4 linked regions of the Homo sapiens genome follow. The protein of the gene in region 1 interacts with the protein of each later gene in a pairwise test. Each region holds a gene or a part of one and is shown in the gene's direction. Other genes may lie near its edges.

Region 1 (7,343 bases):
CCTGGGCTCAAGAGATCCTCCTGCCTCAGCCTTCCAAGTAGCTGGGGCAACAGGTGCACGCTACCATGCCTGGCTAATTTTTAAATTTTTTTTTTTGTAGAGAATGGGTGTCGCTGTGTTGTTCAGGCTGATCTAAAACTCCTGGGCTCAAGTGACCCTCTGGCTTCAAAGCGCTGTGATTACAGGTGTGAGCTGACTGGGCCCGGCCTCAAATGCCTTTATAATTTAAGAAATGGCTCTGAAAAAAAAGGAAATACGTGATGTGGGCCAAAGCAGCGAACGTGTGAGGTGGGCCTGAGGAAAGGTCGGAGCTGGAGTCCCCCACAGGGACAGGTGATGTTGCTTTGAAGTGAATGAGATGCGTCTGAAAAAAATAATCTCAGAGTTGCCTGGGCACTAGAAGGGGCTTCCCTTGCCCCCTCGATTCCTGCTTCTACTCCCCGGGCTGGCCCTGCCCTGGAAACCACACGAGGGTGGCCCACGCATCCGTCAGATGTCTGGGGACCATGTACCTGCTAAGGGAGGGGAGGACGAGGCAGGGACATGGGGATGTATCAGGGTCAGTCATCGTGCCACAACCCCCAGCCCCCAGGGAACACGGGATGGGCAGCATTTTTACTTTAAAATGTTGCCTCATCTAGAGGGGTTTTCCACCCTGTTGGTGCTGGCTTTGGGGAGATATGATTTTATTTGATTTATGTATTTATTTATTTGAGATGGAATTTCGCTCTTTTTGCCCAGGCTGGAGTGCAGTGGCGCAATCTCGGCTCACGGCAACCACCATCTCCCAGGTTCAAGTAATTCTCCGGCCTCAGCCTCCCGAGTAGCTGAGATTACAGGCGTTCGCCACCACACCCGGCTAATTTTGTATTGTTAGTAGAGACGGGGTTTCGCCATGTTGGCCAGGCCGGTCTCAAACGCCTGACCTCAGGTGATCCACCCACCTCGGCCTCCCAAAGTGCTGGAATTACAGGCATGAGCCACCGTGCCTGACCGAGATGCAATTTTAGAGCCCAGGAGGCCAGGCTGCTATTTCTTCCAGGAGTGATTTCCCAAAATGGACCTGGAGCTGACAGGTTCCTGGGGGGACTTGTGGGGGGACCTTGTGCCCACTCGGTCGTGCATCTACTGTCCCCACATCCCCATCGCCAGAAGGCCAGCACCCACCTTTCTGCCACATTTTGGGAACCATAAAAGGACCCAGATTGGAGACTTGTTGAGGGACAGGTGGGACGTGGGCAGCTAACGGGGTTGAATATTATCCAACAGTTTTCATCCCCCTCCCCCCTCATAATAGAGTGGCAGAGAGAGGGTAAGGGATCTAATGAAAATTTGTGAAAGAAAAACAAGGTAAAATAGTTGAAATAGTTGAAAACCACAAGGTCAAATAGTTGGCCTTTCTTTTTTTAAATTTTTTTGAGACAGTTTCGCTCTTGTCGTCCAGGCTGGAGTGCAGTGGCGCAATCTTGGCTCACTGCAACCTCTGCCTTCCGGGTTCAAGCAATTCTCCTGCCTCAGTCTCCCGAGTAGCTGTGATTACAGGCGCATGCCACCACACCTGGTTAATTTTGTATTTTTAGTAGAAACGGGGGTTTCTCCATGTTGGTCAGGCTGATCTGGAACTCCTGACCTCAGGTGATCCGCCCGCCTCGGCCTCCCAAAGTGCTGGAATTACAGGTGTGAGCCACCACGCCTGGCCAGCCTTTCTTGTTGAAAGCCCAGCAGGTCTCCTGTGAGGTCCCTCCAGGGAGGGGCTTGTTCTGTATTTCTGGATCCTCCCAACACGGTAGGGATGGGGTCCATGGAAGGGACTCAGTCAGTGCCACCTGGGTGAACAGTCTCCTGGGGCAGGGCCAGGTGGGCTGGTCCCTCTGCTGCACCTGCTCTCCGGGTGCCCCTTGGCAACAGCAGTACCAAACACCTGCTATGTGCCAAGCGTTGTGCTGGTCACAGGGATGATGGAAATGACCCCTGCTCTAAACGAGTTTGAAGCATAGCAGGAAAGGCAAAGAAACTTTCATTTCCACATGGAGTTGTGACAACAGTGGACTCAGCTGTCGGGAAAGAGCTGAGGGGGTGAGAGGTACAGGGAAGTGTTTTTATTGTTTGTTTTCTTTTGTTTTTGAGACGGAGTCTCACTCTTGTTGCCCAGGCTGGAATGCAGTGGCTCGATGTCGGCTCATTGCAATCTCTGCCTCTTGGGTTCCAGCGATTCCCCTGCCTCAGCCTCCTGAGTAGCTGGGATTACAGTCATGCACCACCACACCCAGCTAATTTTTTGTATTTTTAGTGGAGACAGGGTTTCACCATGTTGGCCAGGCTGGTCTCGAACTCCTGACTTCAAGTAATCCGCTTACCTCGGCCTCCCAAAGTGCTGGGGTTACAGGCATGAGCCATGATGCCTGGCCAACAGCTGGATCCTTTAACCCTGACAGAGAGAGAGGAGTGAGGAGAGGAGGAATCCAGAGGCATGAGACCAGCACTGTCCAGTAGATCTTTGGACAATGTGGTTGAGGACGCTGGCTCATGCCTGTAATCCCAGCACTTTGGGAGGCTAAGGCAGGAGGAGTGGTTGAAGCCAGGAGTTCGAGACCAGGCTGGGCAACATAGTGAGATCCTGTCTCTACAAAAAAAAAAAAAAAAGAAAAAAATCAGCCAAGCGTGGTGACTTGGACCTACAAGTCACAGCTACTTGGCAGGCTGAGGTGGGAGGATCACTTGAGCCCAGGAGTTTGAGGCTGCAGTGAGCTATGATCATGCCACTACACCCCAGCCTGGATGACAGAGGGAGATCTTGTCTCAAAACAAAACCAAAAGAATTCTGGGGAATGGTAGAAATGTTCTCTGTGTGGCCTGTCCAGAAGAGTAGCCACTAACCAAGGCCCTGCCCGGCTGGCAGGAAAAACAAAATATAATTTGGGCAGCCTGGGCAACATAGACCCCCATCTCTACAAAAAATAAAAAATTAGCTGGGTGTGGTGGTGTGTGCCTATAGTTTCAGTTATTTGGGAGGCTGAGGCAGGAAGATCTCTTGATCCTAGAAGGTGGAGGCTGCAGCGAACTGTGATGATTGTACTCCAGTCTGGGTTACAGAGTGAGATCCAGAGAACGAAAGGGAGAGAGAGAGAGTGAGAGAGAGAGAGAGAGGAAGAAAGGAAGAAAGAAAGAAGGAAGAAGAAAGAAAAGGAAGGAAGGAAGGGAGAAAAAAAGAAAGAAGAGAAAGAAAGAAAAAAGAGAGGAGGGAGGGAGAGAGGAAGGAAGGAAGGAGAGAGAAAAGAAAAGAGAAAGGAAGGAAAGGAAAGAAAAAGAAAGGAAGGAAGAAAAGAAAGAGAAGCAGGGAAGGAGGAAGGAAGGAGGGAAGGAGGAAGGAGGGAAGGAAGAAGGAGGGAGGGAGGGAGGGAAGGAAGGAAGGGGAAATAAGACTGAAAAGACTGTGATTTGGAGTCAGTGGGACCCAGGTTTGATGTCGAATTGGCTGAGTGACCCTTGGGCAAGTCACTTGAGCTGCCTGAGCCTCAGTTTCTCCACCTGGGAAATAGAATAGTTGATGCCAGCCCAGAGGTGGCTGTGGGGCTCCTTGCCACACACCATTCTGAAACACAGTCTTTGTTTCTGGGCTCCTAGGCCTGTATGAACTCAATCTCACCACCGATAGCCCTGCCACCACGGGAGCGGTGGTGACCATCTCGGCCAGCCTGGTGGCCAAGGACAACGGCAGCCTGGCCCTGCCCGCTGACGCCCACCTCTACCGCTTCCACTGGATCCACACCCCGCTGGTGCTTACTGGCAAGATGGAGAAGGGTCTCAGCTCCACCATCCGTGTGGTCGGCCACGTGCCCGGGGAATTCCCGGTCTCTGTCTGGGTCACTGCCGCTGACTGCTGGATGTGCCAGCCTGTGGCCAGGGGCTTTGTGGTCCTCCCCATCACAGGTGAGGGTCGCTCCCATTTGCTAGTTTGCCTTCAAACCCTTGGTGCAGAGAAAAACATCAAGCTTCGCTAGGAATCAGATCAATGCAGATTAGGCCCGTAGGTTCTGGGGGATTAGGCCCGTAGGTTCCTTCCCCGGGTCAGTCGAGTTAGAAAGGATCTGAAAATGGCAGTGATTGCCCCCAGGAGGTATTGTGCTAAAAGGGACGCCTATTGCTGCTGAGGGTATACATTAATACAACCCTGTGGAGAGCGACTGGTCAATAGGTACTGTTGGTTAGAAATTATTGTAGTCTCAGCTGGGCGCGGTGGCTCACGCTTGTAATCCCAGCACTTCGGGAGGCCGAGGCAGGTGGATCGCCTGAGATCAGGAGTTTGAGAGCCATCTGGCCAGCATGACAAAACCCCGTCTCCACTAAAAATACAAAAATTAGTGGGGGCATGGTGGTGGGCACCTATAATCCCAGCTGTATAAGAGGCTGAAGCAGGAGAATCGCTTGAACCTGGGGGGCAGAGGTTGCAGTGAGCCGAGAACGTGCCACTGCACTCCAGCCTCGGGGACAGGGTGAGACTGCATCTCAAAAAAAAAAAAAAAAAAAAAAAAAAAAAGAAATTATTGTAGTCTTGGGGCCAGTCATTCACTGGTTCTTTCTCCCCTCTTTCTCCCCTTTCTTTTCTGTCTCTCTCTGTCCTTCTCTCTGTTCTATCTCTGTCTGTCTCTTTCTGTCTCTCTCTGTCCCTTCTCTCTCTGTTTTCCCTTTCTATCTTGCTCTTTCTGTTCTCTGTCTCTTTGTCTCTTTCTGTCTCTGTCTCTTTGTCTCTGTCTCTTTATCTCTGTCTCTATGTCTCTTTGTCTCTCTCTCTCTCTCTCATTCCAAGAGAAGATGCCCCTTTGCCCCTTTAGACTTTCCAGTCTAATAATGAATTTATCTTCAGGAAATAAACCTGCATTTGGGTCATGCCTTTTGCATTAAGGTGTTCATTGCAATAGTGTTTATAATAGCAAAAGAAGAGATAAACAAGCTAAGTGAGCAACCATGAGGAGATTGGCTAAATATAATAAAATCATTTATACCACTATTAACAGTGACCCTTACAATGAGTTTGTAAGGCCATGGGTAAATACACATGCATGTAAAATTACATATTAAAAAAGCAAAGCACAGAATTGTCTAACCCAATAATCTGTATTTAATGTATGTGTATATTAAACACTGAAGCAAATACTTTGTCATACTTCAAAATGGCAACAGTGGTTGAGGTGAATGTTAGTTAGCTTCTTTTCTTCTTATTTTATGTTTGAACATTTTCCAAATGAGCTCTATTGAGCATGCCTTTTTCTTTCCACTTTTACTAATTTTAATTAATTTATTATTACTATTTTTGAGTCAGAGTCTCCTTCTGTTGCCCAGGCTGGAGTGGTGCTGTGATCTTGGCTCACTGCAACCTCCACCTCCCAGTTCAAGCGATTCTCGTGCCTTCGCCTCCCAAGTAGCTGGGACTACAGGTGCTGGCCACCACACCCAGCTAATTTTTGTATTTTTAGTAGAGACAGGGTTTCGCTATGTTGGCCAGGCTGGTCTCAAACTCCTGGCCTCAAGTGATCTGCCCACCTCAGTCTCCCAAAGTGCTGGGATTACAGGTGTGAGCCACCGTGCCCCACCAATTTTTTTTCTTTTTAGAGAAGTAGACATAGGACAGTGGTCCCAACGTGTGAAGCTGTGATCAGTGGAACTGCTAATTTTTCTTTTTTCTTTTTGAGACGGAGTCTTGCTCTGTCACCCAGGCTGGAGTGCAGTGGCGCGATCTCGACTCACTGCAAGCTCTGCCTCCCGGATTCACACCATTCTCCCGCCTCAGCCTCCCAAGTAGCTGGGACTACAGGTGCCCGCTACCATGCCTGGCTAATTTTGTTTTTGTATTTTTAATAGAGACAGGGTTTCACTGTGTTAGTCAGGTTGGTCTTGATCTCCTGACCTCGTGATCTGCCCGTGTTGGCCTCCCAAAGTGTTGGGATTATAGGTGTGAGCCACCGTGCCTGGTCATTGGAACTGCTAATTTTTCTAGGGTCACCTGACATTCTGAAATATTTCTCAAAAGTTCCTTTCAAAGCTTATGCATTTCCTTCTTCTTTTTTTTTTTTTTTTTTTTTTTGAGACAGAGTCTTGCTCTGTCGCCCAGGCTGGAGTGCAGTGGCGCGATCTTGGCTCACTGCAACCTCCGCCTCCCAGGTTCAAGCGATTCTCCTCCCTCAGCCTCCCAAATAGCTGTGACTACAGGTGTGTGCCACCACACCTGGCTAATTTTTGTGTTTTTAGTAGTGACGGGGTTTCACCATCTTGGCCAGGCTGGTCTTGAACTCTTGACCTTGTGATCCACCAACCTCGGCCTCCCAAAGTGCTGGGATTACAGGTGTGAGCCACCGCACCCAGCCATGCATTTCCTTCTGACCTTGGGCATCTTTTGTGCCAGAAAGTTCAGGGTCCTTGTGAGAGGGGACAGGAGAGAAAACAGTGAATGTGACAGAGTCCTCCGGTGTTCAGCAGTGTTCATGCAGCAGGGGGAGGGTGCAGATGCCTCTGTGTTCAGGGGTCTTTGGGGAGTTGTAGGGGGGTGTCCCCTCTCCCTGCCTAGCTCTGACAGCCAGAAGGTCCGGGCAGGGAAGTGGTGGCTTTGACAGCTGCCCATGAAGTCTCTACCTGGTTTCCTGATCCCTGAATCTCCAAGACTCACCCTCCCGTGTCTCTCTCTCTCCCAGAGTTCCTCGTGGGGGACCTTGTTGTCACCCAGAACACTTCCCTACCCTGGCCCAGCTCCTATCTCACTAAGACCGTCCTGAAAGTCTCCTTCCTCCTCCACGACCCGAGCAACTTCCTCAAGACCGCCTTGTTTCTCTACAGCTGGGACTTCGGGGACGGGTAGGTCCTTACCCCTCTGCAGGCCCTACAGCTGTCACTGGTGCCCCACTGTCCCGCGCACTGTGCAGGGTACTCCGAATCTCTTCACCTTTAATTTTTTTTTTTTTTTTGAGATGCAGTCTTGTTCTGTCATCCAGGCTGGAGTGCAGTAGTACCATCTTGGCTCACTGCAACCTCTTCCTCCTGGGTTCAAGTGATTCTCCTGCCTCAGCCTCCCCAGTAACTGGAACTGCAGGCTTGCGCCACCACACCTGGCTAATTTTTGTATTTTTTTTATTTTTATTTTTTTTAGTAGAGATGGGGTTTCACCATGTTGGCCAGGCTAGTCTCAAACTCCTGGCCTCAAGTGATGTGCCTGTCTTGGCCTCCCAAAGTGCTAGGATTACAGGTGTGAGCCACCATGCCTGGCTAATTTTCATATTAAATTTAATTAATTAATTAATTAATTTATTTATTTATATTTTTTAGTAGAGACTGGGTTTCACCATGTTGGCCAG
Region 2 (7,227 bases), on another chromosome or scaffold:
TTTCATAGTTACTCAGAACAAAATGGGGTAAGAGAATGGGGATTGTAATGTGAATCTAAAAGATGTATGTTTCCCTTTCTATATTCAAATGGATCTTATGAGATTCCCATACCTAGAAATTGACCACCAATTAGTAAAATACAGATTTATATCTAAGGCACATTCATTGTTCCTCTTGGTACTATCAGATCTCTCTATTTAATGTCCTAGACCTCAAAGAAAAGTGTTTTGGAGGAGAAAAAAAGAAAAGGAGGAATAATAACATGACCTGCTATCCAAAATGAACACAGAAGCACAGATCACTTTCCAAAATGTCCATGATTTCAGAACATAAATGCAGGCACACCCTTAAAAGAAGCATTAGAGAGGAGAAAACCTGGCCAGCTTCCCAAATCTCCCTGCATCCAATTGGACTGGGTGATGACTGAGATCAAAGGCATGTGGTGATTGGACAGAAGGCCAAGAGGAACTGGCATCCTCAAGGCTGCTGGAAATTAGCCAGCTCAAACACACCAAGCAAAAGCAAATTGGAAATAAAGACAGGCGAGTAATCAAATGCACATGGGGGCATGCTTCACAAAATGCGAACTTCATGTGTTCCCAGAGGAGAAATTGCCAGGTCTTCAACAGCACAAACTCAATAGGAAAATCAAAACATCCCCTTTTGCAACCTTAGAGCCTGAATCTTTGGCTTCCACTTTAGGGAAATGGGCAAAATGACCTCTTTGTCATAGTACACACCATGCTCCCTGCCCTCCTCCACTCCCAGACCCCTCTCCCCTAAGTAACTTTGTCTTTCATTTTGTTTCTAAAGAAAAAAAAATGAGATTTTTGCAATTTGGGGCATTCTCTCTGGAACAGCAAATGTTCCCAGCTCTGCCGTTTACAATGCCTTTGGTGGAAGGTCACCTCGGAGGTGTGATTTTTCAGTATAACATAATTTCTATGGTGCCTTGACATCCTCCAATGAAGAGCACCAATAGGACCACTCCTCTGACATTAGGGAGAGGGTCCACTCAGGCACCAAATGCCATTCTCACCACTAATCCTAATCTTCCTTGTACTCCTTTTATTACCTGCATGTTATTGGGAAAGAGGATGGTTTATGGTCCCATTCCCCTACATACACACTTTCCAACCCCATACTCCCTTAGAAATGTAGAGCAAAGATTACGAATTCTTTTCTGCAGGTTCTGATTCACAGAGGGAGAGCATCAGAATGGGGGCTTTGGATAGGAAAAACCTTGCAAATTAGTGCCTGAATAAAGATATAAAAAGAGAAAAGTGAAGGAAGATATTCTTCTCAAACTTGATGCCCTTTCTCTCTGTCTCTGTCTGTATACACACACACACACACACACACACACACACACACACACACACACACACATATATATGGGTTACATTTTCATGGAGGACAACAGAGTAAAATCCAGCAGCATTTAAGGGATTTCCTCTTGCCAAATTGTCTCCGGTCCCTTAATTGTGTTTAAGCCTTGCTGAGTACTTTGTTTACGGTCCCTAATGTGGTGATTTGCATCCCCCTGTCTGGGTTGCTCTTGGCAGGGCAGGCAGCTGTCTCAGTCTAACTCTGGCTGGGAAAGGTAAGGATCTTTGCTTTGCTTTTTGAAAGATCTGGGAAGGAAATGTTGAATGTCTATGGGGGTTAGGGGCATAGATATAATTCATGCATTGGAGGCTTTGAGAAAAGTTCTCCAAACTTAAAGGAGTCTCCTAAAGCCATGTGCTTTAGAAAGAACTAGAGAGATTTCCTCTTCTTTGTGAAAATAGAGGGCTCGCAGAAATAAGGCTGGTTGCATTGTGGATGAAATTTTGCATTTGGGGGCAGGTGTCCCCAAAGGATGCCCAGGGGTGTTTAATACTTTGTAGACACAGAGTGGAAGGAGGAATAAACATTCAGAAACAACAGGCATAGATCACTAGGAATTCTCTTTGAATTTCAATTTGAAGAGGTAAAGTCAGTTAAAGCTGCATGTGTCAGTGGTTAGGATGACAGGCTTCTATTCTTCTGATACAATGTCTGCTTTATACCAAAACTTTCTACCTCTTTGAATTTAAAATACAAATCATTGGTTGTCTACTCAGAGTCTAGAGATGTGTACCTGTGTATCAAGGCAGGTGCACACACCCTGTGGAGGAGCATTGGTGTGAATGAGGCACCTGAGCCTGACAAGGTTGAAGAAAGCTTTGGTATTGGAAGTGATGACAGATTTGTGCTCCTAGGACACAGACACACTCACTGCGCCTCATTATAGACTCAGTCAAGGGCTTACTATGAAAAAAGCTGCCATTGTCCTCTCTCTAGACGTTCAATGTTTGCACCTTTAGCTTTGGTAACAGGAAAGCATGCTTTTCAACAGAATAAGGTGATATTCAGAGCTTCAGTGCAGTTATTGGGCTATCTTGCAGGCAAAGTGGTACTAGAAAATAGAGGGGAATTGCCCTCAAGGGCCAGAGTTTGCAGGTGAGAAGACAGCTCTGTTAAGGAGCTTCTCAAGAACCTCCATTGTACGTAGCCAGCGGCCCCCATCTTACCATCTTCCGGGGGCAACTTTGGCAAGTTCTGAAATGCCCTGGTTCTAAGTATTCCTGACCCTCAACACCAAGTGACGGTACTCCTCAGATATGAAAGCTGTCTCTTTAGGTCTGACATTTTTAAAGTGTGAGGATCATGGTGACCAAGGCCTCCAGGTACTTGCCATGACTCCCCCAACCTCAGGGACTTTTCAACTTTATTTTTTATAAGGACATAACCCTCTCTCTGGCTTTCATTCCAGAATAAACAACTTCTGGTCCCTCTCTTTTTGTGACAAGTCATCAGGGTATTGCTACAAGGCAAGGCTGGAGAGAGTGTGCTGTGGTAGAGGAGAGGCGAGATGTTTGAGAACATCCAAGCCCTTTGCCAGCTATTAGAGAAATCTAACAATTTGAGAGAAAGATGGAAAACAAATCTCTTCCAAGAGTTAATTTGGATTTGTGGTTCACAGTATTAATTAGAAGAGGTTATTAACACTTGTGCAGATGAAAAAATGGAGGATGTAAACTTTTAACTACAGAGTGTAGGATGAGCTCCCAGTATTATCTTTTCTCCTCAAAAAGACAATCTTGGGCTTTATATGTTTCAAGGTTTTAAAAATTTCACAGTTTGTCTGTAAGAAAGCATAAACCTATAAAGTCACTTACAGGTTTATGGGGTGGGAAATAGATGTTTAACTTTATTGTTTAAGTATGATGTGTCAAGTTGTATATGTTTGAATGTTTAAAATACCTTGATCCTTAAAGTGGGCCAAGGAACAGAGGTCTCAACATAGGTAGGGAGCTTGTTACAGACTTACTGAATCAGAATCTAAATTTAACAATCTCCCCAAATGATATATATATCCATTAAAGATTAGGGTTCAAACCAAGGGTGTCTCTGTTACTGGGTGATCTTTGTTAAATTACTTAACCTCTCTGAGCCTGTTTCCTCATTTATGAACTAGTGAGAATTAACATTAATATGTGACATTTCTTAATATTGTGCCATGTCCACAGTAGGTGCTCTATAAATGGTAGCAATTATCATGATGATGATAATCTTGGTGCTGCTAAAGTTACCTCCTTGCAAAAGCAGTAAACAATCATGTTTAAATCAATATAACTGGCTTTCCCCCTTAACCACAAACATTTGTGCCTCCCACCCTCATTCCTAAATGAATTAACACTCAACAAGTGGGGTTTTAAGCTTCAGATGACTATCACGCACATATAAAGAATAATGGAAAACCTAGGAACATGGATTTTTGCTGGCTTAGAGACTGAATTCAGCTGCCTGATGACTTCACAGCTGTTTCTGCCACCCTAGAGTATCTGTCCCCTCGGCTCTGTCCCCTCAGCCGGGTCTGCAACGCTGACTCTGGGATTTTCTTATAAAAATGCCTGATGGACGGGAGGAAGATCTGGAGGTCGGCGGGGGAAAAAATGAGTCATTCAAATTCACAAAGCAGTCCGCTTAGTAAATGCTGCAAGAGAAAAAGTAAAAGCTGGCTCCTGTCTCTGGGGAATCTGTAGAAATGATTCGGACTCATCATGTCACTGAGCAAAGCTGGGGGAAGCCAAAACTCAGAATCTGCTGGCAAGGAAAAGAACGAAGGAAAAAAAAAAATGTTAGGGAGGGGCAAACCCGAGGGGGAGGGAATAAAAAGAGAGAGGGAGGGAAAGACAAGCGTCATTTAGGAACAGAGGTAGCCTGAAAGAAGCAGGAACTCCAGGATCCCAAACCAGAGCAGACCCTATAGTAAAGTATTTTTACATCTTTTCCTTTCCCCAGAAGAGATCCCTAACCTATTGTTTTATTGACAGCCTTGCTGTTAGAGGCTCTTTCCCAGAAGTTGGACGAAGAGGCTCAGGCGTTGCTGTTTCTTGTCTTCCAAGTCAAGTGGTTACTCTGGTAATGGATTGCCTCTCTCCGAGGTGAGTGTAAGTAATTTGGGGACAGATCTTGATTTTCAGGTTAGCTCAATCTCAGCTTTGGGGTGAAGTTATTTTTTTCAGACATAATCTCAAATATCTTTTAACTGGCCTCACCAGAAGTTAGGGTGTCATTGGACAACAGTGATTAATTAGTTTGGTGATTAAAAATGACATGTGAGTAGGCAGCTCTAAGATTTAGTTTCATTGCTCAGGGAGTGATATTTTGACTTTCCAGAGCAGGGAAGAACCAGTGAGGTTTGATTTGGAGTTGAATTTGTTTTCAGTGGATGCTTAATATATTTAAAGTATGAATCTCATTGAAATGGTCTCAAGTATCTTTCTTTAAACTTGTTCGGTAACTACAACTGCTCAACTGTGTAGCAGCTAGACAGCTTTTTGAGAATGGAAGACAGTGACTCAACCATGTCTGAGCAGCAGACAAGTTTTCACTGATTTCTCATAGACAGCATTTCAACCAGATACTTTTGATCAAAAGTCTCAAGCTTTGTCCTGAAATGTTCAGGTACGAAATACTTAGAAAGGGTCATTGCAGCAAGTTTTATACACAAAGGCATGGAGGAAAATGAAGGTTGTGAAAGTTTCCTGAAAACCTAGCATGCTTATTTGTTTCTGCATGTTGTAGTATACATAATATCGAAATTTTGTGTTGAGCTTAATAGAAAATTTGTGAATTGACAGCTAATTACTCAAATAATTGATTTTATTTTGCCAAGAGAAAGCACAAAATTATATCCTATGAAGGGGTTGAATTTTTTTTTCTTATTTTTTCTCTTTTATAGCAGATTGGAAGATATTGTTACACTTCAGACCACAAATCCCCACCTCATTTTCAATGAATTTTTTGCTGAACTGTCCACCTAAAGTGGGTAATAAAAAGATCCCAGGGAGCAGGTTGCACTGTGTTTAATAGTAACACAATAAAGATTTGTTGGCTGTCATTCAATGGAGAAGAACATCATTTGTTGCTGGCCACTTGCCTTGACATTGATTTTGTGGGCAGCCAATGGGTGATAGTTTGCAAAGAATGCATGTTATGCCCAGCAAGATTGGCGGAGTCTGAGTTGCTGTAAGTTCTGGGATTAATGGTACGAAATATTGTTTGTAATGTATTCTCCTCTTGAATGAGACCATCTTTGGATTAGGATTCAGGCATTTCTGTGTATTCAGAGGAAGGAGAAGCAATAGACAAAGCAGAAAAGCTTGTAAAACTTTTGTAGACCGCCAGGGTATATTAAACACTGTAAGTGCTTCCTGCTTTTTCTGTCTTCCCTTCATATGCATCTGCTTCATCTTATTTTTTGCCTAAATGCAAAGAGAATGCAACCAATTCAAAAAAAGAGTAAAGTTGCTTTTCACATGGATCTGTGCCTCCTAGAAAGGAGGTGCCTCCCCAGCTTTTCATTTCTGCTTACAGGGTGTACATTCTGATACATGTAGCTGACATCTCCTGTTATCTTCACAGCTTTCACCCTGGTGAGACTGTCCAGATCTAGTCTGTAAACCCAGCTTAGAAGCACTGTTGTAAAAATGACTGAAGAGCCCATCAAGGAGATCCTGGGAGCCCCAAAGGCTCACATGGCAGCGACGATGGAGAAGAGCCCCAAGAGTGAAGTTGTGATCACCACAGTCCCTCTGGTCAGTGAGATTCAGTTGATGGCTGCTACAGGGGGTACCGAGCTCTCCTGCTACCGCTGCATCATCCCCTTTGCTGTGGTTGTCTTCATCGCCGGCATCGTGGTCACCGCGGTGGCTTACAGCTTCAATTCCCATGGGTCTATTATCTCCATCTTTGGCCTGGTTGTTCTGTCATCTGGACTTTTTTTACTAGCCTCCAGTGCCTTGTGCTGGAAAGTGAGACAAAGGAGCAAGAAAGCCAAGAGACGGGAGAGTCAAACAGCTCTCGTGGCAAATCAGAGAAGCTTGTTTGCTTGAGACTGAATACGACCAAATGGGCCATTGGGCCTGGAAAACGTGCTCTGACTTTGTCACCCAATTCACCCAGAACCATGGTGGGAGAGAACAGACTTGGCGTTGGAGCAGACTGGAAGAATGGGGGTGGGAGGGTGGAGGGGCTTCTCCTTTGTGAGGAATGACTCATGTCTTCTTTAACGACAAACTTAACCCTAAGGGCTACTTCTGAGACTGAAAAATCAGCTTTCTATTTACATGAAACACTTTGGGGGTCATGGGAGTGCACAGCATTAGACAGTATTTGGTTCACCCTGTAAAGTAGCCAAGAAAAGATGAGAAAAATCAAGATAGGCCTGGCACACTAGACATTTGCCTCCAAAAGAAATAACCTACAGTCTTAAGATGTATCATAAAAATGTTCTGCCAAGGATCTAAATTACCTTGGGTTTCGCATATGTCTATGAAATTCTGTGATAATTTTTTTCAATACATTGATTCACTGGCGTCTGTTTTCATTTTATACTTTTAATAACTCATCACTGGTGGTACTTTATCTTGAAAAGTAATATTTTTTATATTTTAACATTGGACAGTGTTAGCCAGTTGTAATGATGTATCAGAAGTAAAGAAAAACCCATTAAAGTTATAGCTAATAGATGCTGTTGGGGGTTAAATTAATAGTAAAATAATCCAATATAGCACTTTTGATGATTTTTATATAAAAGTCAACTGTACATTTCATTCAGAATAATAAATACTTATTGCTGCTAAAACTTCTTAAATGGTTGTTTCTGCTATAGTTATTTCTATTGCAGTTCCAAA
Region 3 (7,343 bases), on another chromosome or scaffold:
GAAGGTGTCCCAGGGAAAGTACTTGTGGTAGCATGTCACAGAGATCACTGGCATCCCAAAGGCCAGCTATTCATGATGAAAATGTAATTTCAAAATGTTTTCTATTTTTCAAATCAAAGGCAATAGGACTCGGAAAGCATGAGGGCTTTGGGAAGTAGGTCGTATGTTTGTCACACCTGCTCCTGTGGGAAGGAGAAGGCTCTACAGTAACCATCTTGGAATTTAAAATGTGGCTGTAAATTAATTATTACATTCAGCAGCTATTTTTTGAGGGTCAGACCATAAGAAGGATAAAGTATCCTTGGAAGCCACAGGTGGCCTTATGGCATGCGGAGTATTAGAGCCAGATTTGGAACTGGATCCGGCACGCCCAGGGAACCTTTCCTCTTGTAGAATTTCTTCTGCTTTTCCCTTCAGCTTCAGCAAGCAATGTTCATTTGGAGCTGGGCTGAGTCACGGGCCCACACATACAAAACAGAGGCTGGCTGAGAAGTGGCCTCAAAGTTGAAGCTGCTAGGGCAGCTTCAGGTTGTTTTTGCCGTGAGCTCTGGGATTCTGATAGCCTAAGAATGAAATATTGTTCAAAAAAGCACACTTTCCTGAAAAGCTCATTATTTCAGAAGGATAAGGATTGTTGCCTGAGGGAGCAGACAGTTTCATTTACAGTGGGGAACAACTCTGGCCTCCTCAAACCTCTGTGCCCCTGTCCAGTGAGCCTCCTGCCTCCTCACGAGCCTCCCTCTTTCACATATTCCAGGGTGTCTCGGGGTGCGAAGCAACCATCCTCATGTGCTTGGCTTTGGAGAGCACAGCTATGTAGTTGCTTTGTGGATGTTTGCTGAGACCTGTTTCCAGCATATATCTCTAAGCAAAGATGGGTGATGACAGCCAGCAAGCCTGGAACTGATTTGATTTTCTCTGTCTTATCTACTAATCCAATGCACACTGACTAAGAATTCTGCCTTGTGCAGGGCATGTTCTAGAGAGGATGAATAAGGTTTGTCAACTTGAAATCTATAATGAGAGACTAATATGAGAACCTGCAAAAGCACAAAATGGAAAAGAGCAGGACACAGCCAGATCATGGTGAATTCCCAGGTGGCTGGAGCATAGGATGGATAAAGATTTTGGGGGAAACTGTTCTGTAGGCTGTGACTTCATGATAGATCTGCAAACGGCATCATGTAGCAATTGTGGCAGTAGCAATGAGAGGCAATGGGCATGTTCTGCAGCAAGGGGGTCCACCAGGAGACATTCCATGAAGGAACTGAATATGGTGTTGTTGCTGCCGCCCTGCATTCAGCTCGCTTCTGTGGGGTGGTCAAATAGAAGTGTGGGATGGGAATTGGGGCTGCAGGCCAGGGCATCCTGCCTACAGCCATCTTGACTCTCAGACCTCCATTTGTAAAACAGAAATAATAGTCCTTGCTTACCTAACCACGTTGTTTTGAGAAGCCAATAAGATGATGGAAGTGAGAGCTTTGAAAACATTGCAACACAGTGAATGACTTTTTTTTTTCTTTTTCAACTTTCATTTTAGAATCAGGGGGTACATGGGCAGGTTTGTTACAAAGGTACATTGAGTGATGCCGAGATTGGGGGTATGACTGAACCTGTCACTGAGGTAATGAATATAGTATCCAATAGTTAGTTTTTCAACACCTGTGCCCCTCTAGTAGTCCCCAGTATCTATCATTCCCATCTTTATGTCCATGTGTACCCAATATTTAGCTCCTACTTATAAGTGAGAACATGCGGTATTTGATGTTCTGTTCCTGTGATAGTTTGCTTAGGATAATGGCCTCCAGCTGCATTCATGTTGCTGCAAAGGGCATGATTTTGTTCTTTTTTATGGCTGCATAGTATTCCATGGTGTATATGTACCACATTTTCTTTATCCTATCTACCATTGATGGGCACCTGGGTTGATTCCATACCTTTGCCGTTGTGAATAGTGCTGCAGTGAACATGTACCCTTTTGACAGAATGACTTATTTTCCTTTAGGTATTTACCCAGCAATGGGATTGCCGGGTCGAGTGGTAGTTCAACTCAGTTGTTTGAGTCATCTCCAAACTGCCTTCTGCAGTGGCTGTACTGATTTACATTCGCAACATTGTATAAAGTGTCCCCTTTACTCCCAGCCTTGCCAACATCTGTTATTTTTGACTTTTTAACAAAAGCCATTCTGACTGGTATGAGATGGTATCTCATTGTGGTTTTGATTTGCATTTCTCTGATGATTAGAGATGACGAGCATTATTTCATGTTTGTTGCTCGCTTGCATGTCTTCTTTGGAGAATTGTCTGTTTATGTCTTTTGCCCACTTTTTAATGGAGTTATTTGCCTTTTGCTTGTTGATTTGTTTAAGTTCCTTACAGATTCTGGATATTAGACCTTTGGTGAAAGACATTTTTAAAACAATAAAGTGTTGAGGTAGTGGGGCCAACAACACTATTATTTTTAATATGATATCATTTCTCACATTACCACATCCATTCCCTCATGAAATTATTCTTTTAGAGAAAAGGGAAAGGGAGGAGGTGGTAGAGCTAGAACAGCAGGAAATAAATACCCACCTCAGGACTGCAGAGCAGCAAGGCCTCAGGGCCCTGAAAAGAACGCTGAGGCCAGGTCCGGGTGGGGCAGGAAGCAGAGCAGCCTCGCCTGTGGCTCCTACTAGGTCTGTAAACTGCCAGATCTGCCCGCAAACCACCATCAGCAACCCAGAGGCGCCCCAGGAAGCACCCTGAATGCCAGGCCCAGGGGTTCCCCACAGAGGCGGGGCACCAGCCCCCACCCTCCCTATTAATGGGAGTGGTTTCCAGGTGACTCATATGAGTAAAATGCAAAAAATGAAATAGAGACCATTAACATGATTCCAAGTAAGACAAGTGCCAAGTCCCATATTGTATTCTAACTTATCTCAGGATCAGAGAAGGAAATACAAAAAGGCTTGGCTTTAGTTCTCTCAGAACCAGAGCATTTCTGTCCTTTTCTTTCTCTGTAAGAACTGTACGTGGGGCTTGCCTAAGCAGTAAGTGAAATCCCCACCTGAATGATGGCTGCCTCCATCACTAGAGATGCAAGACAGAGTCGGAGTGTTGGGCAGGCTTTTGAGGCTCATGGCTATTTTTCTCCCGGCTCTGCCAAACACCAGCTCTATGACCTTAAGCAAATCGCTTTACCTTTTGGGGCCCAGTTCCTCCGTGTCAAACATGGCAGTAAGAATAGCACCTCCTTTTGGTACTATTAGAATGCTCTGCAGTGCCCAGAGTCTTAAGCCTAGTTGGTCGTGGAGGCACTCGGTTGGCTCTCAGTGGTCTCCTCTGACCTCTTCCCCACAGGGCTGTATGTTCTGGTTGGAGCCGGGGCCCTGATGATGGCCGTGGGGTTCTTCGGGTGCTGCGGAGCCATGCGGGAGTCGCAATGTGTGCTTGGATCAGTAAGTGGGGCGAGGGGGTAAATGGTGGGGTGGGGGTGAGGGAGCGGCCTGCATCTGAAGGGAGTCAGTGCCTCTGGCCCCTGGCTCCAGCTCCTCCGTGGACTCTCTGAGCCCTTGGCATGCACTTTTCCTCCCTCAGTCTTGGTTTCTCCATCTCTTATATATGAATAATACTAACTAGGGCCGGGTGCCATGACTCACGCCTGTAATCCCAGCACTTTGGGAGGCTGAGGCAGGAGGATCTCTGGAGCCCAGGAGTTTAAGACTAGCTTGGGCAACACAGGGAGACCTAGTCTCTACCGGGTGTGATGGCACACACCTGTGGTCCCAGCTACTCAGGAGGCTGAGGCAGGAGGATCACTTAAGACCAGGAGTTGGGAGGCTGCAGTGAGCCATGACTGTACCACTGCACTCCAACCTGGGCGACAGAGCAAAACCTTGTCTTGAAAAAAGAAAAAAGAAAAAAAATATTATCTTTGTTCCTGCCTTATATGGGAAGTGTGAAAAGAAATGACGTCATTGGTGTAAAGATGTTTTGGGAGTAAAAGTACTTAGTAATTGTAAGGGGTGACTATGATTGTTCTTTAAAAAAAAATATTTCACAGTGGGTGAGGCAGCTAAAAGGTTTCTATAGCCAGGGAAGTGCTGTTATCTACAAGGAAAACATTTATGTTTGAGATCAATAACTTAACCAAAATCCCTCTTGTGGCTTATTTTAACAAGCAACCTCTGTTTAAAACAAAAATCAAATAATTTCAATTAACTGCTATACATTCTATGTCAGTGTAGCCTGAGAGAAACAGAAAGGAAGAAGAGGGGCAGGAGGAGAGAAAGTGTTGATATTTCTCCACAGGGAGTCAGAAACAGCAGTTTTAATAGGCAGCCTCTCATCTCTCATTACTTATTGTGATATTTGGATTTTTAACTCTGGCCGTAGCCTCTGATCTCTTGCTATGTGAAATGTCTGACTTATTTCTTTGCCATTCATTCCTTCTCTTTCTCCTACTGTTGAGCACATTTCTGTCTTGTTTATCACTGAACTTAGTTTGATCAGAGCAAATCCATAGACCAGAACAGAAATCCATCCAGAAGGACACCCCTCACCTCATCTCCTCAAAGAAGCCTTTCCAGACCACAGAATCTCCAGTCACCCCCTTCCCCATGCCCAGGCCGCATCAGTGATGCTCCCTCTCCTGACCTTATTTTATATCTTTCTAGGTCTTTTGTGTTCGTCAAGTATTTACTAAGCACGTAGGTGCCAGGTGGTGTTCTAGGTGGTGGGATTTTTACATCACTACCTGAACTTATCTTATTCACTTTTTAACTTCTTTACACAGTTATCGTATATTCCTCTGTCCAATCCAAGGTCCGTGATAACAGAGACATTTGGATATTATCTTGTTCACCACTGAATAGTCAGCACCAAGGACAGTACCTGGTGCAGAATAAATGCCTAATAAACAATTGCTGAATGAATGAATGAATGAATGAACCACATGAAAGCGATTCAGCCATTACATAAGGAAACTAAGGTGCAAAATATATAAATTGAAAAGGTATTAAATTAATGAAATTAGTATTTTCTCTCCTCTACAGTTTTTTACCTGCCTCCTGGTGATATTTGCTGCTGAAGTAACCACTGGAGTATTTGCTTTTATAGGCAAGGGGGTAGTAAGTAAAATTACTTATAATGTTTTTCTATGATGGTTAAAAGTGTTAGAATATTGATACCCACAATAGTGTTAAGAAACCAAATAATCCCCATTATTATAGTTTAAACAGAACTTTTTAACTTAGAAGTGGTGTGCAGAACTGAGCATATATGTATATGAGTGTGCAGGCATATATACATGCTCACATTTTTCTGGGGAGATAGTTCATCTCTTCCATTAGACTTATGAAGTGGTCTATAATAAAACCAAAAAAAAAAGGATCTCTAATTTAAGATTCTTCCCCATTGTGAAATGGGGTAACAGTTAGAGTACAGACTTGAGAAAGAATCTAGATTCTCATCCCCTGTCAGACTGCCATTTGTCCTTAAGGATTGGCCTGGATGGGTCCATTTCATTCTCAAAGAGCAGAGCCTACACTGCTGTGGGCTAGTGAAGCCAGTTTATATTTGCTGCCCAACTCTAGGTGTCCAGAATAGGTTATCGGGGGGACACACAGAGGAAGTAGCCTTTCTTCCTCTGTAAAACACACTGTGGGATAGAAGAGAATGGAATGGAAAAGGAGGAAGAATGGAAACTTAAGTTTGGTGTATTTCACATTAACTCTTGTGTCATTAATATTATGTTTCTGAACTTATTTTAGACTATAAAACAGTAAACATGTAGAATAGTAAATGTCACCTCCTTTTGAATTTTTCTAAAGTAACTGGCTGTGTTCATAGGTTAGTTTAAATTCAGCTACATACAGAAGTAGAATGGAATCTTAGGACCTGTTGAGATATCTGTGGATTTGAAATCACAAGCTTTTATACTAGAAAAAGCATTCTCTAAGCTTTATATGATATCTGAATGTAGAAAGTTTTCCTTGGTGATGAATACCTTTTAAACCACGTCATAAAAAGATTTGAATGCTTTTAACCAATGGGGTAACAGGAATGTATAAGTCCGGATCCTAGCTATGCATCCAAATCATCTGGATGGAGCCCAGGAATCTGGGGCCCAGTTGATGCTGAAGCCCAGTTGGGCTTGGGAACTGTCAGAAATCTTTCTAGTCCATGAAAACTGTTCTGGTTAGTCTGTCCTTCCATCCTCAAAAGCATCTTAGAAACTCCAGAAACTATAATCTTCTCCATATGTTGCTGAATTATCCTAAAATACCTATGGAAAGGCAGTATTTTTTTTTATTTCTACAGGTTTTGTGGGGAACAGGTGGTGTTTGGTTACATGAGTAAGTTCTCTAGTGGGGATTTCTGAGATTTTGGTGCACCCATCACCCGAGCAGTGTACACTGTACCCAATGTGCAGTCTTTTATCCCTCACCTCACTCCTACCCTTTCCCCTGAGTCCCCAAAGTCCATTGTATCATTCTTATGAGAAAGGCAGTGTTTTTCAAAGGTGTGGAAGAGGAGATTTTCCTTGATGAAAGGAGAATGTTTGAAACTTCCCACCCAGAAGTCCTTCATTTTTCCTTGTATTTCTTCAGGCTATCCGACATGTTCAGACCATGTATGAAGAGGCTTACAATGATTACCTTAAAGACAGGGGAAAAGGCAATGGGACACTCATCACCTTCCACTCAACAGTGAGTAACTTCACTTCTTCCTTAAAATCACAGCTTCTAAAGATTATGTGTGAGCCAGGTTCTCACCAATCACCAGGATTAAAAATAAAAATAAATTCAGTAAAGCCAAGTAGCACCACCTATTTTAGCCCTTTTGAGGGCCACAGTTTGCATTATGTGTGGAACCCTAGAAGGGAAAGATGTCTATCACACAGAGTTCACAAGAGAGACAGAAGAGCATGAACCCAAAAGACACATGCCCCAAAGAGACAAAAGAGCACAAACAAGGTTACAGAGAAAGGAGCCCAGATAAATAGCAGGCTTTGTCAGAGGGTAGCATTGTGGTGTAACAGAAACAAGTGTGACCTGTAAGTCAGAAAAGCTAATTTCTAGCTGCAGCTCTACCATTCAACAGCCTTGTGACCTTGAGCAAGTTACTTGGCCTCCCTGATACCCACGCAGCTCCCTCATTTGTAGAATGAAGGGTCACAGGAGATGGCTACACTCCCTTCTGGAACATTCAGTGGGACTGTGCTGTCCGTGGAGTGCTCAGAGCTACATGCAGTTAATCACAGAAGGCTTACAGAGGAGATGGGCCAGGCCAGAGTTATTCTGATTTTTTAGACACTGTGATATGAAGAAGTAGCTGTGAATTCCTGGGCCAGGTGT
Region 4 (7,343 bases), on another chromosome or scaffold:
ATTTTTTAATTAGCCAGGCATGATGGCATGCACCTGTAGTCTCAGCTACTCGGGAGGCTGAGGTGGGAGGATCACTTGAGCCCAGGAGGTTGAGGTCACAGTGAGCTATAATAGCACCACAGCACTCCAGCCAGGGCAAGAAATGTCTCAGAAAAAAAAAAAAAAAAAAGATTCTCTGTAGATTTAGATACCGTGGGATAGTGCTTGTCTTGTCACTGGAGGGCCAAGCATGAACCTGTGTTACCTGTGAAAGGGGGCTCTCTGGCCAGGCGTGGTGGCTCACGCCTGTAATCCCAGTACTTTGGGAGGCCAAGGCAGGCAGATCACGAGGTCAGGAGATTGAGACCATCCTGGCTAACACAGTGAAACCCCGTCTCTACTAAAAAATACAAAAAATTAGCCAGGCGTGGTGGCGGGTGCCTGTAGTCCCAGCTATTTGGGAGGCTAAGGCAGGAGAATGGCGTGAACCCAGGAGGCGGAGCTTGCAGTGAGCCGAGATTGCGCCACTGCACTCCAGCCTGGGTGACAGAGCAAGACTCTGTGTCAAAAAAAAAAAAAAAAAAAAAAAAGAAAGAAAGGCGGCTGTCCATCAGAGTAGATGGAAGAAGGTCCTTTGATGGCAAGTCAGAGAGCAGCGTCCCAAGCTCTCTCCAACAGCAGATTCACCTCTGCAGCTAGACATGGTCGTAATTAATCCTGGCAAACACTCTGGTAGGGAGTGTGATTGTCCTCATTTCAGAGATGAAGAAACTGAAGATCCTAGAAATTAAGCTGAAAAGTGGCAACAGGTAGATTCAAAACTGAGGCCTGTAGATTTTAAGCCCGCAGCTCTTTCCATGTCTGTCTCCTGCTCTTCATTACTAATGAATTTCCTCTTGTCATTAAAGATTGTCTGAAAGGAAATTTTCAGTGGCCAAAATAGCTAAAATTTTCTCTTTTTCTCTTTGATTTTCTGGGAGTTTATGTTTGAGATGGTGCAAGAGCACATTTGCTGCAGTTGGCAAATGCCCCACGTGGCAGGAATGTCACAGGAGCAATTCAAACAGCTGCAGTAGCTGCAGTGTTAGAGAAGTAGGTTTCAGCTTCTCTCTGATCCAGTGGTTCTCAAATGGAGCACTTCCCCACCAGGGGACACTTAACAATGTTGGAAGACATTTGGGTTGTCGCAGCTGGGGAGAGGGGTGCTACTGGCACCATGTTCACAGGATGCTGTAAACATCCTGCTGTGCTCAGGACAGCCCCCATAACAAAGAATTATCAGACCCCAAGTGTCAAAAGTGCCATGGTTGAGAAAGCCTGTAACCCAAGGTGGGTTGAGGGTAGGTTTCAAGGAATGGAGTAGTCTCAAGACTATGGATCTTCAGATTCTGTTACATCTTTCTACGAAACCGAAGTAAAGCGGGAGGGCCCTGGAACCCTGGGGCTGCTTCCTGACCTAAGCTGTGATCTCTGCAGAGGCTGACGCTTGTGCTTGCCCTGGCAACCCTGATAGCTGCCTTTGGGTCATCCTTCCAGTATGGGTACAACGTGGCTGCTGTCAACTCCCCAGCACTGGTAGGTCACTGTGGTGAGCAAGATGTGGGGAGGACGTTTGGAGCAGCCCATTGCCTGGGTGGGACTGGCCAGCGTGGGGCTGTTCACGCAGTGGGTCCTGAAGCAAAGGGAGAGGGAAACACCCTCCGGACACAGCACAGACCCGAGGGAACTCGCAGACACAGGTCTCTTGGGATGGGCCAGGTCTGGATGGACACACAGTGGGCCGGGCTCTAGGAGGGGGCTCAGATCTTCTGTGGCCTTGCTGTTTAGAGGGAATCCGGGGGGGCCAGGGGTCTCCCAGCTGATTGGAAAATTGGAGTCATCCCTTTCTGGCTGAGAAACACCCAGGGTGGTTTGCTGCTGAGAGGCTTCCCAGCCCTCCCGGTGGGTGCCCACCCTTCTCACTGCTCCTGAAGCTCTGTCCTGCCTCCCATCACCCCCCGGTTAATAAGGTTGGTCTCTGTGTGCCCAGGTTATTTCATTGGGTGTCCTAACAGCTAATGTTCTTCTTGCAAAACCGGATCAAATTATTTTGGTGTTCTGTTTTGCTTTGTCTCCTAGCTCATGCAACAATTTTACAATGAGACTTACTATGGTAGGACCGGTGAATTCATGGAAGACTTCCCCTTGACGTTGCTGTGGTCTGTAACCGTGTCCATGTTTCCATTTGGAGGGTTTATCGGATCCCTCCTGGTCGGCCCCTTGGTGAATAAATTTGGCAGGTAAGGGAAGGTGAATTTTTAATTCCCTGAAACTCATAGACCCCCATCAGAGCTAAAATACAGGCCTACAACTGAAATCCTTACCATGAGACTAAGATAATAACCACTGTGGTCATTTTTCTTTTTTCTTTCTTTTTTTTTTTTTTTTTTTTTTTAATTTTTGAGATGGAGTCTTGCTCTGTCAGCCAGGCTGGAATGCAGTGGCGCGATCTTGGCTCACCGCAACCTCCGCCTCCCAGGTTCAAGCGATTCTCCTGCCTCAGCCTCCTGATCCTGGGATCACAGATGTATACCACCATACCCAGCTAATGTATTTCTAGTAGAGACGGAGTTTCACCATGTTGGTCAAGCTGGTCTCAAACTCCTGACCTCAGGTGACCCACCCGCCTCAGCCCCCCAGAGTGCTGGGATTACAGGCGTGAGCCACTGCGCCTGGCCGGTCATTTTTATTTTCTAATGGGGTCAGAAAAGAAGATCAGACATTGACAGTGTTTGGGGACCTAGGCAGGGTCTCAGGGGTTAGAAGCAGGGGTGGCCAGGGATCTACAGGCCCTCGGGCAGACCCGGAAGGAGCCGTGTGTGCTTGTGGAGACCCAGGACTTGCTTCTGCTCATACTGCCCTTTTGCCCCACAGTGTCATCTAGGACATCTCTCTTGTGACACCAGCCTCGTGAACAAAGGGGTCAGGGCTGTATCTTTGCCCCTATTTCTAGAAACATTAGAAATGCCATATTTTATTTCAAAAAAGTGTCCTTAAGATGTCACGCTCCCCCGTATAAATTCCATGGACATTATGGAAGACCTAGTTAGAAAGAGAATTTTAGAGGTCCCCTTGTCCAACCCGTCTAGGGATGAGGAGCACGTGGGGCTGAGTGAGGTCACAGATCTAGTGAGCCCAGAGTAACCCAGACTCTGACTCCTCCTCCAGTATTTCAAGAAAAGAATCTGAGAATAAAAACACACAGCTGGGCGCAGTGGCTCACGTCTGTAATCCCAACACTTTGGGTGGCAGAGGCGGGCGGATCACCTGAGGTCAGGAGTTGGAGACCAGCCTGGCCAACATGGTGAAACTCCGTCTCTACTAAAAATACAAAAATTAGCCGGGCATGGTGGTGGGTGCCTGTAACCCCCCTACTCGGGAGGCTGAGGCCGGAGAATTGCTTGAGCCTGGGAAGCGGAGGTTGCCGTGAGCTAAGATCGCACCATCGCACTCCAGCCTGGGCAACAAGAGCGAAACTCCGTCTCAAAAAACAAACAAACAAAAAACACCGCTGCAGCTTTGGGATCTAACATCCTCTTGAGAGATTAGTGTTGAACCCACAGTTTTCCCTGTGGGCCCTCATGGAGCAGAACATCCCTCCAGTCAGAATCAGACCTGCCGGACACTTCTTGAGTTAAGAGCACGCCGCTTGGCCCACAGATGGAGCTGAAGGTTGCTAATTGAGCTGTCTACTTAGGAGTCTGATAAACACTATTTGGCTATTTGCCGTTTTCTTAAGTATTTGTGGGTGTTATTTATTTCTTTATTTTTTGAGGTAGAGTCTTGCTCTGACGCCCAGGCTGGAGTGCAGTGGTGTGAAATTGGCTCACTGCAACCTCCACCTCCTGGGTTCAAGCCATTCTCCTGCCTCAGCTTCCCAAGTAGCTGGGATTACAGGTGTCTGCCACCACGCGCAGCTAATCTTTGTATTTTTAGTAGAGACAGGGTTTCACCATATTGGCCAGGCTGGTCTCAAACTCCTGGCGTCAAGTGATCCACCCACCTCGGCCTCCCCAAGTGCTGAGATGACAGAGGTGAAACACTGCATGTGGCCAGTGTTATTTAAATAGCAACTAACTTTTATTAATGAGTTCCTATGTGCCAGGCACTGTCCTGACTGTGTTTAGAGGTACTATTACAATCCTCACTTTATTTTTATTTATTTATTTTTGAGATGGAGTCTCGCCCTGTCACCCAGGCTGGAGTGCAATGGTGTGATCTCAGCACACTGCAACCTCTGCCTCCCGGGTTCAAACGATTCTCCTGCCTCGGCCTCCCAAGTAGCTGGGATTACAGGCGCATGCCACCACACCCAGCTAATTTTTTGTATCTTTATTAGAGACGGAGTTTCACCATGTTGGCCAGGCTGGTCTCAAATTCCTGACCTTGTGATCCACCCGCCTTGGCCTCCCAAAGTGCTGAGATTACAGGTGTGAGCCACCGCACCCGGCTAATCCCCACTCCATTTTAAAGATGGGGAAATGGTGCACAGAGAGACACTGTAACTTACCCAAGATCACACAGCTGGGAGGTGGCCAGGACTCCAACCCAGGATGTTTCACTTCTGAGCATGAGCAAGTAATGTCTACACTCTACTTTTGTTACTTAGGGAAAATATCTTCTCAATCTGTTGCTTTATTTTTTTAATCATACATATAGTACCTTTTTTATGCAAAATTTTAAAGTCTTCAAGTGGTCAAATTTATAGATTTTGCTTCTCAACTGAGGACACTTACAAAGCAAACACTATAAATATATATGTGTGAGACAGGGTCTCACTCTGTCACCTAGGTGGGAGTGCAGTGGCATGATCACAGCTCATTGCAGCCTTGAACTCCTGGGCTTAAGGGATCCTTCTGCCTCAGCCTGCTAAATAGCTGGAACTATAGGTGTGTGCCATGGTGCTCAGCTCATTTTTTAGTTTTTGTAGAGACAGGGTCTCACTAGGTTTCTCTGGCTGGTCTCAAACTTCTGGGCTCAAGCAATCCTCCCACCTTGGCCTCCCAAAGTGCTGGGATTACAGGCACGAACCGCTACGCCTAGCCTCTTCTATATTTTTAAAATTTATTTCACAATTTTGTTCTTCCAGATAGATCTGGTGTTTTATTTTGTATATATTGAGTGATGAGAGAAAACTAATTTTATTTTATTTTTCCAAGTGGAAAGTCAGTTGCTTTCAAATTTATCTTAGTTATTCATGCTCCTTTACTCTTCCATTTAAAATTTTAAGTCAGCTTCTCAAAATCCCGGAAGAAAGATTCTGACTGGCATTGCTCTGAATTTATAAATTAACCTGAGGAAAACTGACATCTCTACAATGTTGACCTTGCCCACTCATGAGCAAACTAGAGCTTTCCATTGTCTTCAGGTCTTCTTACATGTCCTCCAATAAAGTTTCATCGTAAAGGACCAAGGATTTAGTTTTCTTTATCCTGGGAGTCACTGTGGTTCCTTGTCTGAAGTTTCATGTCTTTGTCATCAGTTCTGAGACTTTTTCAGCCAATATCTCTACAAATATTGCCCCTCCCCGATTTTCTCCATGAAGTTCCTCCGTGTCTTTGAATCTCTTATATTTCCCATCTTCTTACCTCTCTCGGGTGCTTTCTAGGTAATTTCTGCAGGTCTACCTTCCTATTCATTAATTCTCTCTTCGGATGTAATAAACCTGCTACGTTTTTAATGATTATATTTTTCATTTCAATAAGTTCTATTTATTCGTTTTTAAAATCTACTTTCTATCATTGTTTTAGATAACTTTTATAGTTTTTTGTTCTTTCCTATAGTACTATTTTTATTTTATTTTTTTATTTTTTTGAGACAGAGTCTTGCTCTGTCACCCAGGCTGGAGTGCAATGGCGCAATCTTGGCTCACTGCAACCTCTGCCTCCCGGGTTCAAGTGATTATACTGCCTCAGCCTCCCAAATAGCTGAGATTACAGGCACCTGCCACCATGTCCAGCCAATTTTAGTATTTTTAGTAGAGATGAGGTTTCACCATGTTGGCCAGGCTGGTCTTGAACTCCTGACCTCAAGTGATCTGCCTGCCTTGGCCTCCCAAAGTGCTGGAATTACAGGCATAAGCCACTGTGCCCTGCCTATTTAAAAAATATATATATAAATATATATAATATATATAAATATATAATATATATTAATATATAAATATATAGATAAAATATATAATATATATTATATATAAATATATAATATATATAAATATATATAATATATATAAATATATATAATATATAAATATATAATATATATAAATATATATAATATATAAATATATAATATATATAAATATATATAATATATAAATATATAATATATATAAATATATATAGTATATAAATATATAATATATAAATACAATATATAAATATATAATATAAATATACAATATATAAATATATAATATAAATATATAATATATAAATATAATATATAAATATATAATATAAATATATAATATATAAATATAATATATAAATATATAATATATAAATATATAAAATATATAAATATATAAAATATATATTAACATATAAATATATGTAATATAAATATATAATATATATTATATATAAATATATATTATATATTAATATATAAATATATAATATATATTATATATTAATATATAATAGAGTAAGACCCTATCTCAAAAAATATATTTTAAAAAATATTTTTAAAACATATATATATATATATTTTTTTTTGAAATATGGTCTTACTCTGTCGCCCAGGCTGGAGTGCAGTGGCACGATTGTGGCTCACTGCAGACTCCACCTCCTGTGCTCAAGTGATCCTCCTCTCTAGTAGCTGAGACTACAGGGATGGGGTCTTGCTATGTTGCTCAGTCTGGTCTTGAACTCCTGGCCTCAAGCCATCCTCCCACCTTGGCCTCTGAAAGTGCTGAGATTACTGGCAAGAGCCACCATGTCCTGCCATTAAAAATAGACTTTATTAAAGAGCAGTTTTAGGCTCACATAATTGAGAAGAGGCTATAGAGACTTCCCATGTACCTCTCCTCCAATACATGCATAGTCTCCCCCTTTATCAACATCTCTCACCAGAGCGCTGTATTTGTTACAAATGATGAGACCTGCATTGACATATATCATCACCCAAGGTTCATAGTGTACATTAGGGTTTACTCTTGATGTTGTGCATTCTATGGGTTTTGACAAATGCGTAATGACTTGTATCCACCATTATAGTATCATATAGAGTAGTTTCACTGCCCTAAGAATCCTCTATGCTCTGCCTAGTCACCCCCTCCCTCCTCTCTAACTCCTGGCAACCACCGATCCTTCTACTAT

The links.
Region 2: the proteins of TMEM130 (region 1) and TMEM100 interact in binary tests that used the Homo sapiens proteins (3 or more experiments, as listed by UniProt).
Region 3: the proteins of TMEM130 (region 1) and TSPAN2 interact in binary tests that used the Homo sapiens proteins (3 or more experiments, as listed by UniProt).
Region 4: the proteins of TMEM130 (region 1) and SLC2A5 interact in binary tests that used the Homo sapiens proteins (3 or more experiments, as listed by UniProt).

The regions. Positions count from the first base shown.
Region 1 is NC_000007.14:98,859,682-98,867,024, reverse strand, and holds part of TMEM130 (transmembrane protein 130 isoform b precursor), read left to right. Parts: intron 1-3,624; coding exon 3,625-3,930; intron 3,931-6,686; coding exon 6,687-6,846; intron 6,847-7,343.
Region 2 is NC_000017.11:55,719,865-55,727,091, reverse strand, and holds the start of TMEM100 (transmembrane protein 100), read left to right. Parts: upstream 1-4,227; 5' UTR 4,228-4,473; exon of another isoform or gene 4,474-4,479; intron 4,480-5,956; 5' UTR 5,957-6,021; coding exon 6,022-6,426; 3' UTR 6,427-7,227. UniProt on the Homo sapiens protein: Plays a role during embryonic arterial endothelium differentiation and vascular morphogenesis through the ACVRL1 receptor-dependent signaling pathway upon stimulation by bone morphogenetic proteins, such as GDF2/BMP9 and BMP10.
Region 3 is NC_000001.11:115,058,235-115,065,577, reverse strand, and holds part of TSPAN2 (tetraspanin-2), read left to right. Parts: intron 1-3,345; coding exon 3,346-3,443; intron 3,444-5,039; coding exon 5,040-5,114; intron 5,115-6,596; coding exon 6,597-6,695; intron 6,696-7,343. UniProt on the Homo sapiens protein: May play a role in signalling in oligodendrocytes in the early stages of their terminal differentiation into myelin-forming glia and may also function in stabilizing the mature sheath.
Region 4 is NC_000001.11:9,052,363-9,059,705, reverse strand, and holds part of SLC2A5 (solute carrier family 2, facilitated glucose transporter member 5), read left to right. Parts: intron 1-1,455; coding exon 1,456-1,554; intron 1,555-2,097; coding exon 2,098-2,258; intron 2,259-7,343. UniProt on the Homo sapiens protein: Functions as a fructose transporter that has only low activity with other monosaccharides. Can mediate the uptake of 2-deoxyglucose, but with low efficiency. Essential for fructose uptake in the small intestine.